Linked DNA regions of Homo sapiens. The protein of the gene in region 1 purifies or fractionates together with the protein of each later gene. This does not show direct contact. Each region holds a gene or a part of one and is shown in the gene's direction. Other genes may lie near its edges.

The links. The genes of interacting proteins can lie anywhere in the genome.
Region 2: the proteins of SH3GL3 (region 1) and PPP6R3 purify together in Homo sapiens (affinity purification with mass spectrometry; one large-scale study listed by BioGRID and IntAct). This does not show direct contact.
Region 3: the proteins of SH3GL3 (region 1) and MAT2B purify together in Homo sapiens (affinity purification with mass spectrometry; one large-scale study listed by BioGRID and IntAct). This does not show direct contact.
Region 4: the proteins of SH3GL3 (region 1) and RBFOX3 purify together in Homo sapiens (affinity purification with mass spectrometry; one large-scale study listed by BioGRID and IntAct). This does not show direct contact.

Annotation. Positions count from the first base shown.
Region 1 is NC_000015.10:83,565,841-83,569,340, forward strand, and holds part of SH3GL3 (endophilin-A3), read left to right. Parts: intron 1-2,688; coding exon 2,689-2,832; intron 2,833-3,500. UniProt on the Homo sapiens protein: Implicated in endocytosis. May recruit other proteins to membranes with high curvature.
Region 2 is NC_000011.10:68,568,752-68,572,251, forward strand, and holds part of PPP6R3 (serine/threonine-protein phosphatase 6 regulatory subunit 3), read left to right. Parts: intron 1-996; coding exon 997-1,146; intron 1,147-2,288; coding exon 2,289-2,353; intron 2,354-3,500.
Region 3 is NC_000005.10:163,515,619-163,519,854, forward strand, and holds the end of MAT2B (methionine adenosyltransferase 2 subunit beta), read left to right. Parts: intron 1-899; coding exon 900-1,093; intron 1,094-1,942; coding exon 1,943-2,056; intron 2,057-2,574; coding exon 2,575-2,745; 3' UTR 2,746-3,736; downstream 3,737-4,236.
Region 4 is NC_000017.11:79,111,052-79,114,551, reverse strand, and holds part of RBFOX3 (RNA binding protein fox-1 homolog 3), read left to right. Parts: intron 1-3,500. UniProt on the Homo sapiens protein: Pre-mRNA alternative splicing regulator. Regulates alternative splicing of RBFOX2 to enhance the production of mRNA species that are targeted for nonsense-mediated decay (NMD).

The DNA of each region.
Region 1 (3,500 bases):
GAGTTCCTGTGATTCCCTTGACTGTAGGAATCAGCACAAACCTAACCATTTGAAAATTGAGAAAGTAAAAATTTAAGAATATAAATTTTATCAGGTGTATCCAGGCAGGTCTAAAGTTCTTTACAATTGTATTGATGATAATAGCTTTGAAAACCATAAAAATATATCTTCTCCTCCCTGGCCACATCAGTGATTGAAATCAGCCACACAAATTTCTTTTCCTGATATATCAGTCAACAAATATTTAATATGTGCTTTCTCTGCACTAGAGGATTTCGGGGTGCTGGAGTACACTATGAAATCAGACAGATACTTCACCCTCAACCAGCTGACTCTTGAATGGGATAAGGAAGTGTTGGCCAACAATAAAAGTGTCACCACTGGCTAGAGGTCTCTGGTTATTCCTAGAGAAGAGGCAGCCCTAGCAACCTCTTATCCAGTTTAATGGCTCTCACCCACATACCTGCTGCATCCCACATCCCCCTCCAACAGTGGGAAAGATGGGCAGAGAGAGAGAGAGAGAGAGTGTGTGTGTGTGTGTGTGTGTGTGTGTGTGTGTGTGTGTGTAGTGTGTGAGAGTGAAGCCTTTGGGCTTGGGGACCTGGAGGATAAATGCTTTGAGGATAAATGTGAGGTTCAAAAGTCCGGCACTGGCCAGGCACAATGGCTTATGCCTGTAATCCCAGCACTTTGGGAGGCCAAGGCATGATGATTGCTTGAAGCCAAGAGTTCAAGACCAGCCTGGGCAATGTAGCAAGACTCTATGTCTACAAAACATTTTCAAAATTAGCCAGGTGTGGTAACACGTCTGTAGTCCTATTTTTACTCAGGAGGCTGAGGTGGGAGGATCGCTTGAACCCATGAGTTTGTGGCCACAGTGAGCCATGATCATACCACTGCACTACAGCCTGGGCAACAGTTGTTGTTTCAAAACAACAACAAAAAAGGCTGGCACTGTGAATGTCAGGTGAATGTGAGTGGCACTCACAGCTGGCACGGGAATGTCACTACTCACAGTGCATTCTATTGCTGGAGATGCAGAATTAGGCTCAACCCAGACCGATGGAATCACTCTACATTTTAACAAGATCCTTGGGTTATTTACATACACATTAAAGTTTTGGAGGCATTGATTTAAAATACATTAAAAATAGTACAAAATTATTAAAGTAGGAAAAAAAGTGTATCTCTTGACTATCTAAAAGTATCTCAAATACCACAAACTAGTATGTGATTCACTCTCTCACCTACAGGATGAAATCTCAAATCCTTAGCTTGGTGTTCAATTCATAGTCACATTTTCCCATAGCTATCTCCCACTTTGTCCTGTATTAATAGCATTTTAGGTCAAACCAGCCTACTCCTTGTCCACTGATTATGCCACAGTATTCCCTCTTCTACACGTTACTGACACCATTCTCTGTACTTTTTAGGGCATCTTTCCATCTTTCTTCAGCATATTGCCGCCTTTCCCTTGCCCTGCACCACACTGGACTTTATTTTCATAATTATGTCCTGTATATTCTGCCTCCCAGTAACTAGACTTTGAGCTCCTTGAGGGCAAAGCCTGTCTCTGGAGTCCCAGTAATGAGCACAGTGTGTTGTTGCACAGGGCCCAGTGCAACAATGAGTAAATACTCATTGCCTGAGTCAGAGGAAGGAAAGGAAGGTAAGACGCAGTGATGCGCATCACCTCCCTAGGGAGCAGAGGCTGAGCTGCACCTTGGGACCAGCCACACAAGGCTAGTGTTCACTAGGGGTGGGGTGGTCTGTCCCCTCCTATGATTCTGCCTCCTAAACAGCAGCACCTGCCTGCCATAATACTGAAAATCATTAGGCTCAATCAGTCCTTGGGAGCAGAGTGTGTGTGTGTGTGCGTGCGCGCGCATGTGGTGTGTGTTAATGACCAGTTGGTTGTTTGAAATATCCTCCTCGGCAATTCTATTTTTGTTTACATTTAAACAAACAAACAAAAAGCATGTCAGTGTCACACAGGTGTCAGTGTCTGACTTCACGTGTCAGCAACTGCAAGCTTTCCAAAGGGTCTCACTCGAGGGGTGGTGCTCAGGAAAGCCTGGTCACTATTATTTCAAGTCAGCAATGTGCCCCATCATTTCTTTTTTTTTTTCTTTCTTTCTTTCTTTCTTTTTTTTTTTTTTGAGACAAAGTCTCGCTCTTGTCCCCCAGGCTAGAGTGCAATGGCGCGATCTTGGCTCACTGCAACCTCCGCCTCCCGGGTTCAAGCAATTCTCCTGCCTCAGCCTCCCGAGTAGCTAGGATTACAGGCATGTGCCACCACGCCCAGCTAATTTTTTGTATTTTTAGTAGAGACAGGGTTTCTCCATGTTGGTCAGGCTGGTCTTGAACTCCTGGCCTCAGGTGATCTGCCGGCCTCGGCCTCCCAAAGTGTTGGGATTACAGGTGTGAGCCACTGCGCCCAGCCGATGTGCACCATCATTTCTATGGTTCATCGTGGCTGCGGAACAGTGCACTTAGCACCCACCTTGGTAAAGAACCTAGAAAATTACCTGAGAAAATTAAATAGTTCACACACAATTGTTTCAGGCCTCAGGTCTCTGGCATTTTGTTTAAGGTGACCTCAGTTTTGGCAGCTGCGTTTATTAAATTCTATGTACCTGTCACTCCACCTTGTAACTTTAAAGAATTACAAATGACAATGTTTTTAAGCATACAGAGCTAAGCTAGGAATGCTGAACACTGTGTCGAAGATCCGAGGGCAGGTGAAGACCACAGGATACCCGCAGACGGAAGGCTTGCTGGGGGACTGTATGCTGAAATACGGGAAGGAGCTCGGGGAAGACTCCACCTTTGGTGAGTTATTCAGAGATCAGCTGGGGGAGCTGAGAACTCCTCCAGTATGGTTTTAGGTTATACACAAACCCTTCAGTCTAACAACCTTTGTTATTTTTCCATATTACCAAAGTAATACATGTTAATTGCAGGAGGTTTAGAAAACATAGGTAAGTAAAATAAAGAAAAATGCTAACATCACCCATAATCCCATATCCACCGATAGGCCCAATTAAACTCTGTTGTGTATCTTTTTTTTTTTTTTTTTTTTAGACAAAGTCTATGCCCAGGCTGGAGTGCAGTGGCGCGATCTTGGCTCACTGCAGCCTCCACCTCCCAGGTTCAAACGATTCTCGTGCCTTAGCCTCCCGAGTAGCTGGATTACAGGCTCAAGCCACCATGCCTGACTAATGTTTTGTATTTTAAATAGAGACAGGGTTTCGCCATTTTGGCCAGGCTGGTTTTGAACTCCTGACCTCAAGTGATCCGCCTGCCTCGGCCTCCCAAACTGCTGGGATTACAGGAGTGAGCCACTGCACTTGGCTTGTTGTGTATCTTTTATGCCTTGTTTATTCTTATATGTATTCATATGTACTTTTAAAAACTACAGTAAGGCTATAGTACATATACTCTTTGGTAACACTGACTATATAATGATCCATATCGTAAAATAATTAATCTTCCATGAT
Region 2 (3,500 bases), on another chromosome or scaffold:
ATCAAAATGAAATTCTTACAATTTTTTTTTTTTTTTGAGATGGAGTCTGGCTCAGTCGCCCAGGCTGGAGTGCAGTGATCTTGGCTCACTGCAAGCTCCGCCTCCTGGGTTCACGCCATTCTCCTGCCTCAGCCTCCTGAGTAGCTGGGGCCACAGGCGCCCGCCACCACACCCAGCGATTTTTTTGTATTTTTAGTAGAGACGGGGTTTCACCGTGTTAGGATGGTCTTGATCTCCTGACCTCGTGATCCGCCCGCCTCGGCCTCCCAGAGTGCAGAGATTACAGGCATGAGCCACCACGCCTGGCCTCTTATAAATTTTTTTGAAAATTATAGAAAATTTACCACGCTAACTATTTGTGTTAGTTGCTTTGAAGAGAAAAAAGATACTCCCTTTCTCTTGGAGAAACGTACTCTTGTCTTTGTATGTTTGTTGTTGGTTTTTTACTAGATTCCATACCAGTTCTGGCATGTCAGATAAGCAGATAGCACGCCATTTAGGCTCTAAAGCAATACTTCACATCCCCATTTAGTCCTCGTTATTTATGAGGGATACCTTCCAAGACTCCTTTGGATGCCTGAAACCACAGCTATCGAACCCTATATATACTATGTGTTTTTCCTATACATACCTGTGACAAAGTTTAATTTATAAATTAAGCACAGGAAGAGATTAATAATAACTAATAATAAAGTAGAACAATTATAAATCTATACTGTAATGAATGTTATGTGAATGTCATCTCTTGGATTAGCATGTCTTACTGTATTATACTCACCTATTTTCAGATCATGGTTGACTGTGGGTAACTGAAACCACAGAAAATGAAACTGTGGTTATGCAAGTACTAATGTGAACTCAGGTTCCTTTTAATTGGTCCTTTTGGACTGAGAGCACATCATTTTTACTTTATTAAATCACTGTTCTGTAAATGTATTTAAGTATTGGCTTAAACATTGAGGTAACCGAATAAAACATGGTTTTTCTTTTTTGTAGAACATGTTCTTCAAGTATACATGGAATAACTTTTTGCATACACAAGTGGAAATTTGTATTGCACTGATTCTTGCAAGTCCTTTTGAAAACACAGAAAATGCCACAATTACCGATCAAGACTCCACTGGTGATAATTTGTTATTAAAACATGTAAGCTTATTTGGTCTCGTTTTTCTCCCACTCTCTCCTGGTTATAGCAGTTTTCCACTTGACTGTGATGTGAATTGAGGTTTAAAGGGCTTGAGGTTAGATTTCAGAGTCTAAATATTTGACAATCATGTGTTCGTTTCACTTTTAACATATAAATCATTATATAAATCAAGTACTGGACAAATAACTATTAAATGAACAGTCTTGTAAGAAAAAAGCTAAGTGGCCTCCTTATTTGGTAAAATTAATAGGTTTGAAGATATATAAATTCTTTGATGATTTGAAGAATCATAGAAATTTAAATACTATGGAAAACATTTGCACTATTATTTGGCTGACCAGAGTGTAGTTTCTTTGCTGAATACGTGACTGAAAGTCAGGAGAACTGAGTTCTTTGTGATGTTGAGAGTCTTCCTGGGGTCTCTTTTTCTCTTCTGTCAAATATGAGATAATTTTACTAAGTCAGTCTTCAGATTTTTTCTTGCTTGGTAGTTCTATGGTACTTTTAAAATTTCTAGCCCACACTTGGTTTACTCGCAAACCTAAAATGTAGAAAAGGCTAGCTTGGAACAGCCAAGTTGATGGGAAAGACAAATGACACCTGAGAAGAACTAGCCCTGCACATTCCAGTATTGCAGCCTACAGCAGTTGTCACTGACTTGCAGACTTTGGGCAAAACCCACCTGTTTTTAATATTAATGCAGTAATGTTAGTTCATCTGGAAGTAAGACGTGCTCACATTTTAAAAGTACAAGCATTACTTTGGATTCTAAGTTAAATTTTTGCCAAGGCATAGTTTTCTTTATTCCATTTTAATTTAGCTCAGGTTTTATATTTCTGTTCTGAATTTTCACAGCTAATAAAACCTGGCTTTCCTTTATAGTTAACTATAGGTAGTTAACTGCACTACCTATAATACTGAGTTTCCTGTAGATGTTCTGTGGAGGGTGTGGATCCTGATTTGAATCTCTGTAGTGTTGTGGGTGTCTGCAGTAGATTGATGATCACATTGCATTTGGCTTAGTAACATTTAGCTTGCTAGATTATGCATACTACTATTCTCTTTAACCTAGAGTTCTGTTTCACTTTAAAGTTTTGATGCTTTGAAGTATTAACTGGAATATTCTTTTTTTTTTTTTCAGCTTTTCCAAAAATGTCAATTAATAGAACGAATACTTGAAGCCTGGGAAATGAATGAGAAGAAACAGTAAGTAAATTGTTTTTTTGAAAGGAATTCAGTTTGGTTGGTAATATGAGGAAAATAATACCTCCTTGCCCTAGTCAGAAAAAAATGGAAATAATTACATGATACTGGCCATTTTACAATTTAAACTTTTCCCCAGATTATTTCATTGTAACAGTTGTTTTTATAATACTAATAATTTCTTGTTAGGTCCTCTTGTTTTTGGGGCAAAACAAGTGAGTTCGGAGTGTTCCCCACCTCTGTGCTGCCTTTGAAACTTCCTGGTCCTTTTTGAATGGCTACTGTTCTAAGAGTTATAAGGTTAAAGTTAAGTCCTTGATGATGTGACTTAGTGTATTTGTCCTGGTCACCTTATGCTCAGAACAGAAGGTATCACGTACATATTTTCATTGTAGAGAAGAGTTGCTTTGTACAGGGACCTAGAGGAAAAAAATTGCTCAGTGTTTTCTTTTTAGAAAATGTTTGTTAGCTGATTGGCAAGGTTATGTGAAGTATTAGTTGATACATGTAAGTAGCTTTGTTACACAAAACGTTTTCTTACAGGTGTTGTCTGTAACAGCATTCCTCTCTAGTGCCCTGGAAGCCTTTATGTCACCCCGTAGATTCTGAAGCATGGTGGCATAAGGGCGTGTTTGGGAAACACTCTGAAGGCATGCTTCTGTGTTTGTTTTTAAGACAGGTTTATTGAGATATAATTCTCATATGGTAAAGCTCATTTTAGGTGTACATTCCTAGGAATTCTGACTGATGCCTGAAGTCACCATCACCACAATCAAGACATTTCTGTCACCCCCAAAATTTCTCTCATGGTCCTTTGTAGTTGATCATTTCCCAGCATTCTTGTTATGTGTCTCTGTGTCTCCAGGAAAGCTAGATGACTCTTGGGAGTCAGCCTTACTTTGTGAGGTTTGATTTTTTTTTTTTAAATCGTTTAATAAGCACTGCTACTAGGGTTTTGATTTGGCTTCATGTGGGAAATTGGCATTTTGTTTGTTTGTTTGTGGCAAGGGGCTAGTATTGGTAGACCTCAGATACATTCTTCCAAATGGAGCTCTTTGGAGATGCTGTTTGTGGCCCAGTTGACATCTCTGGTTATATGTCTGACTCCGTCTTGGCTTCTCTGTGTCCTTCCCAACCTCCAGTCTTCTTG
Region 3 (4,236 bases), on another chromosome or scaffold:
TTAATCTAGCATCCAGTCAAAGACTATTCATTGCATTCAGTTGTCATGATAAGTTTTATTTTTAATGATCATATTAATGTAGGATTTATATATATAAAAAAAACTAGTCCAAATGACAGAAGATACTTAACAAATGTGGTTTTGCCTTTTTCTTTTTTTTTTTTTTTTTTTTTTTTTTGAGACAGGGTCTCAGTCGCCTGGGCTGGAGTGCAGTAGGGTGAACACAGCTCACTATAGCCTTGACCTCCTTGGCTTAAGCAATCCTCCCACCACGAACGGCTAATTTTTTTACATTTTGTAGAGACGAGGTCTCACTGTGTTGTCCACGCTGGTCTCGAACTCCTGGGCTCAAGTAGTCCTCCTGCCTTGGACTCCCAAGTGCTGGAATTACAGTCATGAGCCCCACCGCACTCAGCCTTTGACTGTTTTTAATTTTATTTTTGAGGCAGGGTCTCACTCTGTTGCCCAGGCTGGAGTACAGTGGTGCAGTCATAGCTCATTGCAACCTTGAACTTCAGGCTCAAGAGATCCTTTTGCCTTACTCAGCCTCCCAAGTAGCTGGGACTACAGGCATGTGCCACCATGCCCAGCTAATTTTCATTTTAATTTTTTGTAGAGACGGAGTTTTGCTATGATGCCCGGGCTGATCTTGAACTCCTGGCTTCAAGTGATCCTTCTGCCTTGGCCTCCCAAAGTGCTAGCATTATAGGCATGAGTCACTGTGCCTGGCCTTGAATATTTTTACATTGCGTTGTCACAAGTGAGCTGTGTCATTTTGGTATATTTTAATTAAAAGGCAAGGTTTCTACTTTGATATTATTTAAATCCACACCCTTGTATCTTACATCAAAATTTAAGAATCAGTCAGCTTTAAATTATTTGCTTTTATTCTTCTCTAGGAGCTGCTGTTTTGAGGATTCCTATTCTGTATGGGGAAGTTGAAAAGCTCGAAGAAAGTGCTGTGACTGTTATGTTTGATAAAGTGCAGTTCAGCAACAAGTCAGCAAACATGGATCACTGGCAGCAGAGGTTCCCCACACATGTCAAAGATGTGGCCACTGTGTGCCGGCAGCTAGCAGAGAAGAGAATGCTGGTAAGAAGGATTCCTGAGTCCTGTCTTAGCGAAGGTCCGCTTTGTCTTTTCCATGCTTGAACTTTCACAGCTGTACTTGGAGTGTTACTGAGTGAAAGCCAAAAGTGCTTTTTTAAAACTAGGAGACCAAACAAAAGTAGTTTACATATACACTGTATTCATGAAGAATAAAAATATTATGCTCTTCTGTTTGAATTTATTTCTTATGTACTATAGATCCCATCATTTCTTTTATTGCAAAGTGTTAGGAAACTTCAAAATAATCATCTAAGGTCTTTTAAGAAGATACTCTTTGGGGGCTGGGCGTGATGGCTCACACCTGTAATCCCAGCACATTTGAAAAAGTTGGTATTAAATATAATATCCATACAAAGAAAGATGAGACTGATTTAGTTTAGAATATTAATAGGATGACCACAGTTTTTTAATATATGAGAATTATATTTTGTAATATATAACATGACAATATTTAAGAAAGTTTAGCTCAACTTGAAAAATGGTTCTATTAAGTTTTTGTTGTAGCTTGGGATAATTAAAAATACTCATTAAATTGTACTGTTTTCATAAAAATTTGTAATGCTTTTTTATATTCCCACTAATTAAGTAAAATTGGAGCCTTTTTTTGATTTTAAAAATTCTTAAGGTTTAAATTCTAGAAATTGCTCTTTTAAGTGTTTTGCTAAGAGTATTAGTAGGAATTTGATTTTAGATATCTTGTGGAGACCTTTCCAGAAAAAGAGGGTTGCCTTTTAGTTCCTGGACCTTATTTTAAGTAAGCTTTTTGGTCAAACCTATTCTACTCAGCTCAAAAAGTTGAAACTATTGAATTTATTGTGTCATCGTTCTTAGGATCCATCAATTAAGGGAACCTTTCACTGGTCTGGCAATGAACAGATGACTAAGTATGAAATGGCATGTGCAATTGCAGATGCCTTCAACCTCCCCAGCAGTCACTTAAGACCTGTAAGTACATGGCTGTAAAAACCTTTAGATCCATTGCTATGGTATATATTATTGCTGTGTTGGGTAACTTCATTTCTCAGTACTAATCAAAGTGAACTTTGCTTGTATGCTGGCTGTTCATAGTGCTACTTTTCTCTAAATTATCATCTGTAGAGAAGATCATGAGTATTGAAGTTTGTAGAAAATGTATTATTGTCTTGATCATGACAGGCATTTGGTTTATTTTTCCAGGGATGATCAAATCAGATTTCTTACACTAAGAGCAAAAATAAGTAGCAAATATAAAACCTCAAAATGGCCAGGCACAATGGCTCATGCCTGTAATCCCAACACTTTGGGAGGCTGACGCAGGAGGATCCCTTGAGCCCAGGAATTTGAGACTAGCCTGGGCAATGGAGGGAGATCTCATCTCTGTTTAAAAATATATACATATTTAAAAAAAGGTCAGGGGGAACAAAGCCCTCAAAATATAGCCTTTCACTTACTTTTGATTTTTTTGTGTTTATCTTTCTTTAAAGATTACTGACAGCCCTGTCCTAGGAGCACAACGTCCGAGAAATGCTCAGCTTGACTGCTCCAAATTGGAGACCTTGGGCATTGGCCAACGAACACCATTTCGAATTGGAATCAAAGAATCACTTTGGCCTTTCCTCATTGACAAGAGATGGAGACAAACGGTCTTTCATTAGTTTATTTGTGTTGGGTTCTTTTTTTTTTTTAAATGAAAAGTATAGTATGTGGCACTTTTTAAAGAACAAAGGAAATAGTTTTGTATGAGTACTTTAATTGTGACTCTTAGGATCTTTCAGGTAAATGATGCTCTTGCACTAGTGAAATTGTCTAAAGAAACTAAAGGGCAGTCATGCCCTGTTTGCAGTAATTTTTCTTTTTATCATTTTGTTTGTCCTGGCTAAACTTGGAGTTTGAGTATAGTAAATTATGATCCTTAAATATTTGAGAGTCAGGATGAAGCAGATCTGCTGTAGACTTTTCAGATGAAATTGTTCATTCTCGTAACCTCCATATTTTCAGGATTTTTGAAGCTGTTGACCTTTTCATGTTGATTATTTTAAATTGTGTGAAATAGTATAAAAATCATTGGTGTTCATTATTTGCTTTGCCTGAGCTCAGATCAAAATGTTTGAAGAAAGGAACTTTATTTTTGCAAGTTACGTACAGTTTTTATGCTTGAGATATTTCAACATGTTATGTATATTGGAACTTCTACAGCTTGATGCCTCCTGCTTTTATAGCAGTTTATGGGGAGCACTTGAAAGAGCGTGTGTACATGTATTTTTTTTCTAGGCAAACATTGAATGCAAACGTGTATTTTTTTAATATAAATATATAACTGTCCTTTTCATCCCATGTTGCCGCTAAGTGATATTTCATATGTGTGGTTATACTCATAATAATGGGCCTTGTAAGTCTTTTCACCATTCATGAATAATAATAAATATGTACTGCTGGCATGTAATGCTTAGTTTTCTTGTATTTACTTCTTTTTTTAAATGTAAGGACCAAACTTCTAAACTAATTGTTCTTTTGTTGCTTTAATTTTTAAAAATTACATTCTTCTGATGTAACATGTGATACATACAAAAGAATATAGTTTAATATGTATTGAAATAAAACACAATAAAATTAACACTTGATCCAGAATGTTAACTTACCACCCCATCCTAGAATGTTACAGTTACTGTATCTATTTGTGGGAACGGATTTGTTTTTAACTAAAAATTAATAGCTATATAATCTTGTTACATTATACAGTTGACCCTTGAACGGTGTGGGTTTGGGGTATCAACCTTGCACAGTCTAAAATCCACTATAACTCTGGACTCCCCAAATACTTAATTAGTAAAAACCTGCTGTTGACCAGAAGCCTTACTGATAAACATAGTCATTTAACATATTTCTATCTTCTGTGTATTACATACTGTATTCTTAAAGTAGCCTAGAGAAAAGAAAATATTATTAAGAAAATCTCAAGGAAGGGAAAATATATTTACTATTCATTAAGTGGAAGTAGATTATCATAAAGTTTTTTTTTTTTTTTTTTAGACAAGGTCTCGCTCTGTCGCATAGGCTGGGGTACAGTGGTGCATTCTCAGCTCACTGCAACCTCCGCCTCCTGGGTTCAAGCAATTCTCCTCCCTCAGCCACTCGAGTAGCTGGGA
Region 4 (3,500 bases), on another chromosome or scaffold:
GTGGACGCAGATAGGAGCCTTCCCCCGGTGCATGTGTGGGCAGGGGCTTCCTCCAGCGTCACCCAGGCCCTCTGCCGAGAGAGCCCACCCAGCCACCTCCTGGGCTGGACCCGACCCTCATCTGGCACCCAGGCGGTGCCTTTCCTCCCTGCTTGGAGCCCCGCCCAGCCCGAATCTGCCCCGAGACCATCAGCCTTTCCAGCGCCCCCAGCATCCTGATACCCAGGGTTCCTACAGCCACAGGACACACATGGAAAAGGCCAGGCCCCAGGGTGGTAGAAGCAGGGGCCAAGCTTCCCTGTCTGCTCTGGTTCTTATTCATCAAACCCACGCCCTGTGTGTGCTTAGAAAAGACAGAGATGATCCCAGGAGCCAAGCCGGGTTCACCATAAACAAGTCACGCTAGAGCAGGCTGGGTCTCCTTCTGACTGACTCCAGTAGACACAGCTTATCTGCTCAAACCTCTGACAGCCACCTTATGGACAGACGAGGGGGTCTCTCATGGTGAGCCTCAGGGGTTCGTCCCAGAAGAAAACCAGAAGCAGGAGGGTCAGACACACAGATAACACAGCTTGGGGACGGACCTAGCACTCTAACTGAACAACAGAACCGAGGCCAGATGCCTCCTGGACACCTGGGGCCACCAGACACAGCCTACCAGGACACACATAAAGTCTTCCTTCACTCGGCAGACATTTGCTGAGCACCTGCCGTGTTCCAGGCACTGAATTGGCACTGAGGCTACAAAGAAGAAAGGACCCAGCCCTGTCCCCTAGTTCCTGCCACGCAAGGACAGGAAAGTCAGAAACAGAGGCTGGCTTGGGTCTGGCTTGCCCGTGAGAGGCCACAGACCATGGAGAGAATCCCCGAGTGAGCAGCAGCTGCTGAAAAGGTGAATGCTGCATCCAATGAAGTACTCTCCAACCAGGAGGATGGGAGTCTCACCACCCAGTTATTAGCCTCCAGAGCCTCCCAGGAAGCGTGTCCAGGTGGGAAGCACCCAGAGCCCAGAGGATGGACAGACGGCCTTGACCTTCCTTTCTTCAGGCTGGGGTCTCTCAGGTCTGGCAGAGGGTTCAGGGTCATGGTCTGCAGATCTTTCATCCAGGGACCCAGAGGAGAGAGTCATCCTCCATGACCTGCACCCAGGGCAGGGCTGCAGGCAGAAGTTACGGCATCGGCGTGGTGCCCCACGAAGAACAAAGACCTGGGCCTCCTCAGAGGCCATGCGCTCCCCAACCTTGGAGTATTTGTTCATGCAGAGCCTTCCTACCTTGGAAGGCAGCTGGAGAGGGTGTTCTAGATTCCAGGAGCTCCTTCCTCCCAGAGGCTGCCCGGCACTCACAGCTGAAGGCCGAACGCCTCCCTGCTGGCTCAGGTGTCCCCAGACCCTGTCCCTGGGTCATCAGCAGGGCCCTTTCAGCTCACTCGAGCCTCCCCTTGGCCCTGCCCCAAGCAGCCTGGTATTGTGGTCTAGATCTTCGGGATAGGAAGTGGGATGAGTTCAGAGCTTTGGTCCAGACCTGCCTAGGTCAGAGTGTCTTCCTGAGCTCCCGGGGCACTCGAGGGCCCGTGTGCAGCCACCAAGTACCCTGGTCTCTTCCTTCCCCACCATCCCTGAAGTCCTACCCAGCCCACCCCCCCCCCGAGAGCCTGCTGCCCAGGTTGGCACCAGGTCAGGGCACACAACCCCCTGGACGCTCCCTGGACCCAGATGCCACCCAGAGGCCACTGGGGCTTCCCGCCCTCTCGCCCAAGGGGACTTCCTTCTGCTGGTGAGCATGGGCTGCCCTGGCAGTTGGTGTGGCCAGGGCAGTGGAGAGGGGGAGCTTGGAGTGCCTGTCCAGCCCCCACATCACCCACCCCACTGGTAGCTGTGGCAGAGCCGGCCCCTAGACGGCAGGGTCCTGTCCAGGCCCGGGGGCCCACACAGGCAGCCTGTTCCGTTCTAGGACCTGGGGCTGATGGCGTCGATGGGAGAGAGCAGTGGCCCCTGCAGCCCATCCCCATGCCTCAGACCTCTCCGTCTCCTCCACCCCAGGATCCTCAAAGACAGCCTGGGCCCCAGCTCCGGAAAGGCCTTCCTGGAATTTCTGGAACCACGAGGCCTCTTCCTGCTCCTCCTCCCCCGAGGAGGGTTTCCAGCCAGCAATTGGTGGGAAGTCCGTGTTCATCCAACTCAGGGCCTTTCCCGACACCTCCACCACCCAGGTGGGATGCACCCCTCAACCCCTAGTCACAGAAGCACAGCTGACCCTGCAGAGAGAAACATGGGGTTCCTGGGGGCCACCGGTCCCTCACCGACACTGAGACTTCCCACAGAAGGCGGAGCGTGCACTGATTTTTGTGGTCTCGATACCCTCGGGTGGGTCCCGACCACCCCCAGTGACTTTCCAGCTACATCATTCCCCAGGAAGGCTCCTCCCCTCTGAGCAGGACACCTCTTTTCACCGTCCAGAAATACGGAGGCTCCTTCCTGGTGGGGCAGGGGCGTCTCTGCTCATCCGTGATGGGAAGGGACATGTGACAAGAACCCACAAGGGGCACGCACACCTGCACATAGGCTCCGTTTCTCTCACCGCTCACCACGACATCACCTGCCTTCTCTGGACAAAAGCAGCAAAGGGTACAGAGTGCGATGAGGGGCTGCGGAAGGACCGGGGGACCCCATCTCACTACCTTGAGCCACCCCCAGGGTCTGTGTTCCCCAGCAGGGGTCACCATCTGGAGCATGTATTCACTCACTCGGGGTCACGCAGGTGCCAGTACTGTGGGCCCTTGGGAGTCTTTGTGCTCAAGGGACCCTCAGCTTGCTAACGGGCCGGGCATGTTGGCTCACGCCTGTCACCCCAGCACTTCGGGAGGCCGAGGCAGGTGGATCACGAAGTCAGGACTTCCAGACCAGCCTGGCCAAGATGGTGGAACCCTGTCTCTACAAAAATACAAAAATTAATCGGGCATGGTGGCTCGTGCCTGTAATCCCAGCTGCCCGGGAGGCTGAGGCAGGAGAATCACTTGAACCCAGGAGGTGGAGGTTGCAGTGAGCTGAGATCACGCCGCTGCACTCCAGCCTGGGCGACAGAGCAAAACTCTGAGAAAAAGAGAGAGAGATTAGCACGCAGATAAAAAAAATGCCAGACAAAGCACGGAGGGTCACTGTGGAGGGCCAGCCAGGTAGAGGGAGACGGGATGAGACTGGTGTTTTCCAGAGCCCACGTGGGCTCCTCCACCTGCCAGAAGGGACCCCACGTGGGCCGCAAGGGCCTGATGTCTGAGGGGCCAGCACCTCCCTCACTGCCTGCTGGGGACCTGGGCTCTGCACCCCTGGCTTCACTGCAGGCATAGATGCCTGTGCGCCCAGGTCCCTGGAGGCCTCTCTGCCCAGTGACCTGCAGCCCCAGGATGAACCTCTGTCCTTTCTGCTGTCCGTCGGGCCTGAGCCTCCTCGGAAACTCCCGCACTTGCCCTGATCTTCCATTTGGACCACCTCATCTATAACT